Regions from separate parts of the Homo sapiens genome. Here region 2 is linked to region 1. Evidence: fine-mapped expression QTL. A gene starts in region 1. The other region holds a variant in brackets. All regions are shown on one strand. Distances are from middle to middle.

Region 1 (2,874 bases):
TCTGCAACCGCCCGGGGCTCCATGGCGCGCCGGGGAAGGCGGGACGGGCCCTTCCTCAGCCGTTCCGGGCCGCAGTTCGCCGGCCCCGCCCTGGCCCAGAAAGCCCCGCGCCAGCGCGCGGGGGAGGCCGGGACGGGGCGCGGCGTCTGGTGGCGCTTTAACGGGGCGCAGCGTCTGGTGGCGCTTTAAGGGGGCGCGGCCTGAGGCAGAACTGGCGGCTCGGAGGTTTTAAGACCCGAGTCGAGGGGCTGAGTCGCTCTGAACCGAACTGACCCCTCTCCTTGTGACCCGCGCTTCTTGGGCCAGAAGTTCCAACAGGAAACGATCTCAGCCCCCACCGTGCCCTGCCACACACACAGTGACGCCCCTCGAGCTCCACAGAACCGATGGGATGTAGAGGGGAAAGCCGAAGTGGAAAGGAATTTTCAGTCCTGGGCCATTGGGTTCGTTAGGCGTTTGCTGGGGAATGCAGGCGAACGGGATTCCCAGGTCCCTGCCTTTGTGGAGCTTATGTTCCAGAGGGGAAGGGGGACAAGGAAAAACAAAAGGACACGAGGCGGTCACAGGGCTGTGCTTCAAAAGAAGCAAAAGGCGACTGCTGGGCTGCAACGGGCTGTGAGGAAGTGCTGTTTTTGCTGACACCGGACGGTGGGAAGTGAGCCGGGAAAAGACTGGAGGAGCCACTCCAGGCAGAAGGAGCAGCACTTGCAAAGGTGGAGGGGCCGAGAGAAAGGGGAGCAACCCAGTCTGGCCTGGACTCAGTTCCCTCTTGAAAAGCAAAGATCCTGCGTGTCCGTTTCAGTGGCCGTCATGAGGATTCAGTGACGCACAGGAAGCGCGATCCACTCGCTCTTCTAACAAGTGCCCGGGAGCAAAGGCGTCTACGGCCCCCAGTCCCCGCGCCGCCTCCCAGTCTCTCTCCCGGCTTCACTTTCCTGTAGTGCGTTCTGTACGGCTGTATTCGACGCGGCGCGCACTCGCAGGCACGAGCGAGGCGCCGATCTCCACTTGACAGAGGAGGCACCCCTGCCCCCACCACACCCAGTGCTCCTCGCGGGCTTCTGCCCGAGGGGTCTGCTCCTTCCTCATGACCCGCCTGTGAATCCTTCCTAACCGTTAGGACCTAACCCACAGAAGCGTCTTTCCACCACCATCGTCTAGGCACTGAGCAAGCAAACGGCCCCGCCCCGCCCCACGTTCACAGGAACACCAAACGTCACATCCGCGGTGCTGCTGTAATCCCAGCACCTTGGGAGCCCGGCAGGCGGGGGCTGCAGTGAGCTGAGATCGCGCCACTGTCTGCGCGACAGTGCTGAAAATAAGCCACAGATATGCCCATCGCTTCCGCGCCCGGCAGTTCCCCACCCTCGGCCCTAAGCCGGAAGTCAGCGAGCCCGAAGCGGAAGGGGCTGGGCTATCTAGGGGCGTGGTCGGTGCGGAGGCGGGGCCATCGCTAGCTGGGGGCGGGGCCGGAAGCTCTTTCCCCGCGACTGCGCCACGTCTGAGGCGGCTGTGGCCGCGTCGGTGTCCGCGTCGAGGAGCCGGGGCAGGGCACGATGGCGGACTGGGCTCGGGGTGAGCGCGGGAGAGCGGAGCCGTTGGGGGCAGGGCCGGGCCGAAACCGACGCCGCTGCCTGTAGAGCCGCGTGCGCCTGCCTCTGGCCCAGCTGGGGTGACCTCGGCCGAGAGGACCCTGTCAGGGGGGCGGATTCGGATCCTTCCGGGTCCGAGCAGGGCCGGGTTTCGGCCGGCACTGCCGTTAGGACCGAAGGCGCGCGTGGCGGCCCAGCAGCTCCAGCGAGGGGTCGCGCAGCAGCGGGGTCTCCCCACTCCCCGCCGCCCCCTGTGAGATCGTTCTGCATGGGTTCGGGGTGAGCGGGAGTCGGCATTCGACAGGTCCCGAGGCCAGGCCCTAGGAGTAGAGGCTGTGCTCCGCTGGTGTCCAAGCAGGACTCTTACTTTGGCCTCGGTGGCCCCATTTCCCCTCCTGGAGCCCGTGTTCTTGTCTGCAAAGTGGGATATTGATGCCTGTCTCTGTGAGGTGTTATGATGATTAAAGGAATTTATAAATATGAAGTGGCTGGAAGGACGCTGGCATCCCTTCCTGACACTGAAGCTAGGGAGGAGGTGGTTCTCACGCACCTGATGTGACAGAACTTCCTTATCCCCTGGCCCAGCCTGTCACAGGCCAGGCCTCTGCGAGCACTCTGCCCTGGGTGTTGCAGGAAGCCCCATGCGGGATGCAGACCAAGGATCCCGCTCCTGGTCGACCTCAGCTCCCGTCTCGGGGAAATTGGGAACTTTGCTCAGCCATTTTCTGTGCGGTAAAGGGCCTTCCCAATGTTCTGTCCTGGTTCCTTGCCACCTCTTCAGGACCTAGCTCAAAGGTCGTCTCTGCAGGAGCCTTTCTGCTGCCTTGCTGGGTACTTTTCCCAAGTCTTTTCTATGCTCTTAGCAGAGTTTACTCTTTTTCTATAAGAATGGGCTCCACATACACAGATGGTGACCTCCCTGGATGCAAGTGTCACATCATACTAGCACCCCAGGGCTGGGTCCAGTTTTTGCTACACAGTCTCAGAAGGTGCTGGTTGGACCGAACCCATTGTGGGTGCTTGCCCATCCCCACCTTGATGTGTACACAGGACATGTGTTCACATGACAGGCCCTTACACACATCGTCCTTTATGCAGCCTGTCTCATGTGCAAGATTCACCTGCTGGAACCTTGGTTAGGGCCCCCTAGATTTCTGACTCACCCAGATGTGGTTGGAGTGAGAGGGGTCAGGGGCCGTGCTCACCGATGGATGCAACCCTTCAGCCCCTCTCTTTTCTCAGCTCAGAGCCCGGGCGCTGTGGAAGAGATTCTAGACCGGGA
Region 2 (2,912 bases), 20 kb after region 1:
CTAGGAAGGAATTTTTCAGCTCCATTTTTATGTCATGGGACCACCATCATATGTATGCAATGCACGAGTGTAAAATCACATTTAGTTAAGTCAGCTTACACTAAGCTATGGACCCAGATGGTCCTGGGGCCTTTTTCCACTGGGAGATCTTTAAGGACCTTTCTTAGCTTTTCTATGCTAATTGGTATATTCATAGTTGCCTTATTTCAGGGCCCATTTTGTTAATGTGTATTTTTACTAGGAAATCACCCATTTTTTCTAGGTTTCCAGTTTGATGCAATTATTTGACTTTTAATTTCTCCTCTGTTTTTAGTTTTGTACATAATTTTCCTATCTACTTTTGCACTCTTTTTTCCATCAACAATATTTTTAAAATATACTTTTTAGCTTTTTTTGAAGAATTGTTATGTTTGACAATTTTTTATGACCTAATCATGACCGTAAATGATTTTTAATTAATTTCAGCTTAATGTCTTTTGTAGGGCACAACTGTTAAAATACAGAATTACAACAAATGTGGGTTTGCAGATCTTAATTGGCTTTTTTTTGTGGTTCTAGAATCAGGCAGCAGTCCAGACCAAAAATGGTTCAGAATGATCTGCCACACAACATGTGCGGGTTATATTTATAGCCAGAGGAAAAAAGTGACATACAGAAAACAGAAGTGAGGTATAGAGGTGGCTGGATTGGTTACAGACCTGGTTACAGCCCGGATTTGCCTTCTTGGAACTTGTTTTGAACAGCTGGCTGCCGGCCATTGACTGACACTCGGCTGATGTGATTGGCTGAACCGCCGCTATTTGTTACCATGATACATTCCCAAGTCAGATTTTCAGTTTGTTTCTATACTAAATTAGGTTGCGATTCTTCTTGTTCTTCTTCTTTTTTCTTTTTTGAGGCGGAGTCTCGCTCTGTCGCCCAGGCTGGAGTGCAGTGGCGCGATCTCAGCTCACAGCAAGCTCCGCCTCCCAGGTTCACGCCATTCTCCTGTCCCGGCCTCCCGAGTAGCTGGGACTGCAGGCTGCCGCCACCAAGCCCGGCTAATTTTTTTGTATTTTTTTTTTTTAGTAGAGACTGGGTTTCACCTTGTAAGCCATGATGGTCTCGATTTCCTGACCTCATGAGCCACCCGTCTCGGCCTCCCAAAGTGCTGGGATTACAGGCGTGAGCCACGGCGCCCGGCCGCGACTCTTTACAAGGACTCCTCGGGAGGCTTCCAGAGCCCAAATGTTGTTTGATGTAAGAATTCCTCCCTTTTGGTCAGCCTCTCAATTTTGAGATATTGATCAAAACTTTGGGCATTGGTGTCACTCTTTGTTGTCGTTGTAAATTGAGTTATTAGGACTTATTTGCTTTCAGTGTGGCATTTTCAAGTTTTATTTGGTCTCAGTGCCCTCTGGGCAATAGCAGAACACTGTGTTGTGTAA[G/A]GCGGAAATAGAGCAATAGAAAATAACAACTGATTTGTTAATATCAGATTACTTCAAGTTACTTGTTTTGGTAAGAATTAAAGCAGAGGGGACTTCTTTATGCTGACTCAGGTAGACTGGAATCTCTTCAGGGAAAAAGGGAGCTCTTTTGGGATCTATCTACTTCCTTAGAGTTTCAGCTTCGTTGTGTGTCATTCAGCGTGAGTGTCTCCATTCTGATTTTGCCTGCTCAGTGTGGCCTAGTGCGGGAGTGGTGACCGAAACAATGACCTCCCGTAGTTTGTTCCACAGTTCTCCCCTTTTGGTTGGGTTCCTGCCTAGGTGAGGGTGTGACTAAAACCTTAGGGCATTAGCGGTATTCTCAGTAACTATCATTTTAGGTTTCCGGTCTTAGGGCATTAGCACTATTCTCAGTAACTATCATTTTAGGGTTCCGGTCTTAGGGCATTAGCACTATTCTCAGTGACTATCATTTTAGGGTTCCGGTCTTAGGACATTAGCGGTATTCTCAGTAACTATCATTTTAGGGTTCCGGTCTTAGGGCATTAGCGGTATTCTCAGTAACTATCATTTTAGGGTTCCGGTCTTAGGGCATTAGCGGTATTCTCAGTAACTATCATTTTAGGGTTCCGGTCTTAGGGCATTAGCACTATTCTCAGTAACTATCATTTTAGGGTTCCGGTCTTAGGGCATTAGCGGTATTCTCAGTAACTATCATTTTAGGGTTCCGGTCTTAGGGCATTAGCGGTATTCTCAGTAACTATCATTTTAGGGTTCCAGTCTTAGGGCATTAGCAGTATTCTCAGTGACTATCATTTTAGGGTTCCGGTCTTAGGGCATTAGCACTATTCTCAGTAACTATCATTTTAGGGTTCTGGTCTTAGGGCATTAGCAGTATTCTCAGTGACTATCATTTTAGGTTTCCGGTCTTACGGCATTAGCGGTATTCTCAGTAACTATCATTTTAGGGTTCCGGTGTTAGGGCATTAGCACTATTCTCAGTAACTATCATTTTAGGGTTCCGGTCTTAGGGCATTAGCAGTATTCTCAGTAACTACCATTTTAGGGTTCCGGTCTTAGGGCATTAGCACTATTCTCAGTAACTATCATTTTAGGGTTCCGGTCTTAGGGCATTAGCAGTATTCTCAGTAACTATCATTTTAGGTTTCCGGTCTCAACACATCATTTAAGAAGTCAGTAAAGCTTTCTTCTACTGTGACAGCATATTTAATACTGAGAAAGAAAAGAAAATTTTTATCTTGCGAATGTGAGCTTCCTCTAAATTATCAGGTCCAGAGAGGCGTGGGAATGAGGCAGCAGTCACGTCCCATTTCCCTCTTAGCTAAGTAATCATATCTTGAAGCTGCTTGCTATGTAGACTAGACTGACTGTCATCAGCTATAGATTAACCTAAGAGTGTCTTTGAATATTTTTTCCAGTGGCAAATATTTGCTTCTGTTGTATCGTAGCTGAAAGGAATGCTGG

The links. PIP is the estimated chance that this variant, and not a neighbour inherited with it, causes the effect.
Region 2: its variant is fine-mapped to the expression of BET1L in cerebral cortex (GTEx, PIP above 0.99).

Annotation. Positions count from the first base shown.
Region 1 is chr11:206,004-208,877 of GRCh38, reverse strand. It overlaps BET1L (Bet1 golgi vesicular membrane trafficking protein like), which reads left to right and starts at 1,479. Exons shown (of 4, transcript NM_001098787.2): 1 at 1,479-1,575; 2 at 2,835-2,874. The coding sequence starts at 1,557. It overlaps RIC8A (RIC8 guanine nucleotide exchange factor A), which reads right to left and starts at 1,170. Exons shown (of 10, transcript NM_001286134.2): 1 at 1-1,170. The coding sequence starts at 23. RefSeq lists silencers at 1-257, 258-456, 1,518-1,637, 1,748-1,807 and enhancers at 1-583, 559-728, 584-1,205, 1,752-2,253, 2,564-2,874.
Region 2 is chr11:185,898-188,809 of GRCh38, reverse strand. It overlaps a transcript of SCGB1C1 not described here. Among named protein-coding and RNA genes, the nearest start is that of SCGB1C1, 5.7 kb to the left of the region's middle. The variant G/A (reference allele first, on the strand shown) is at 1,428.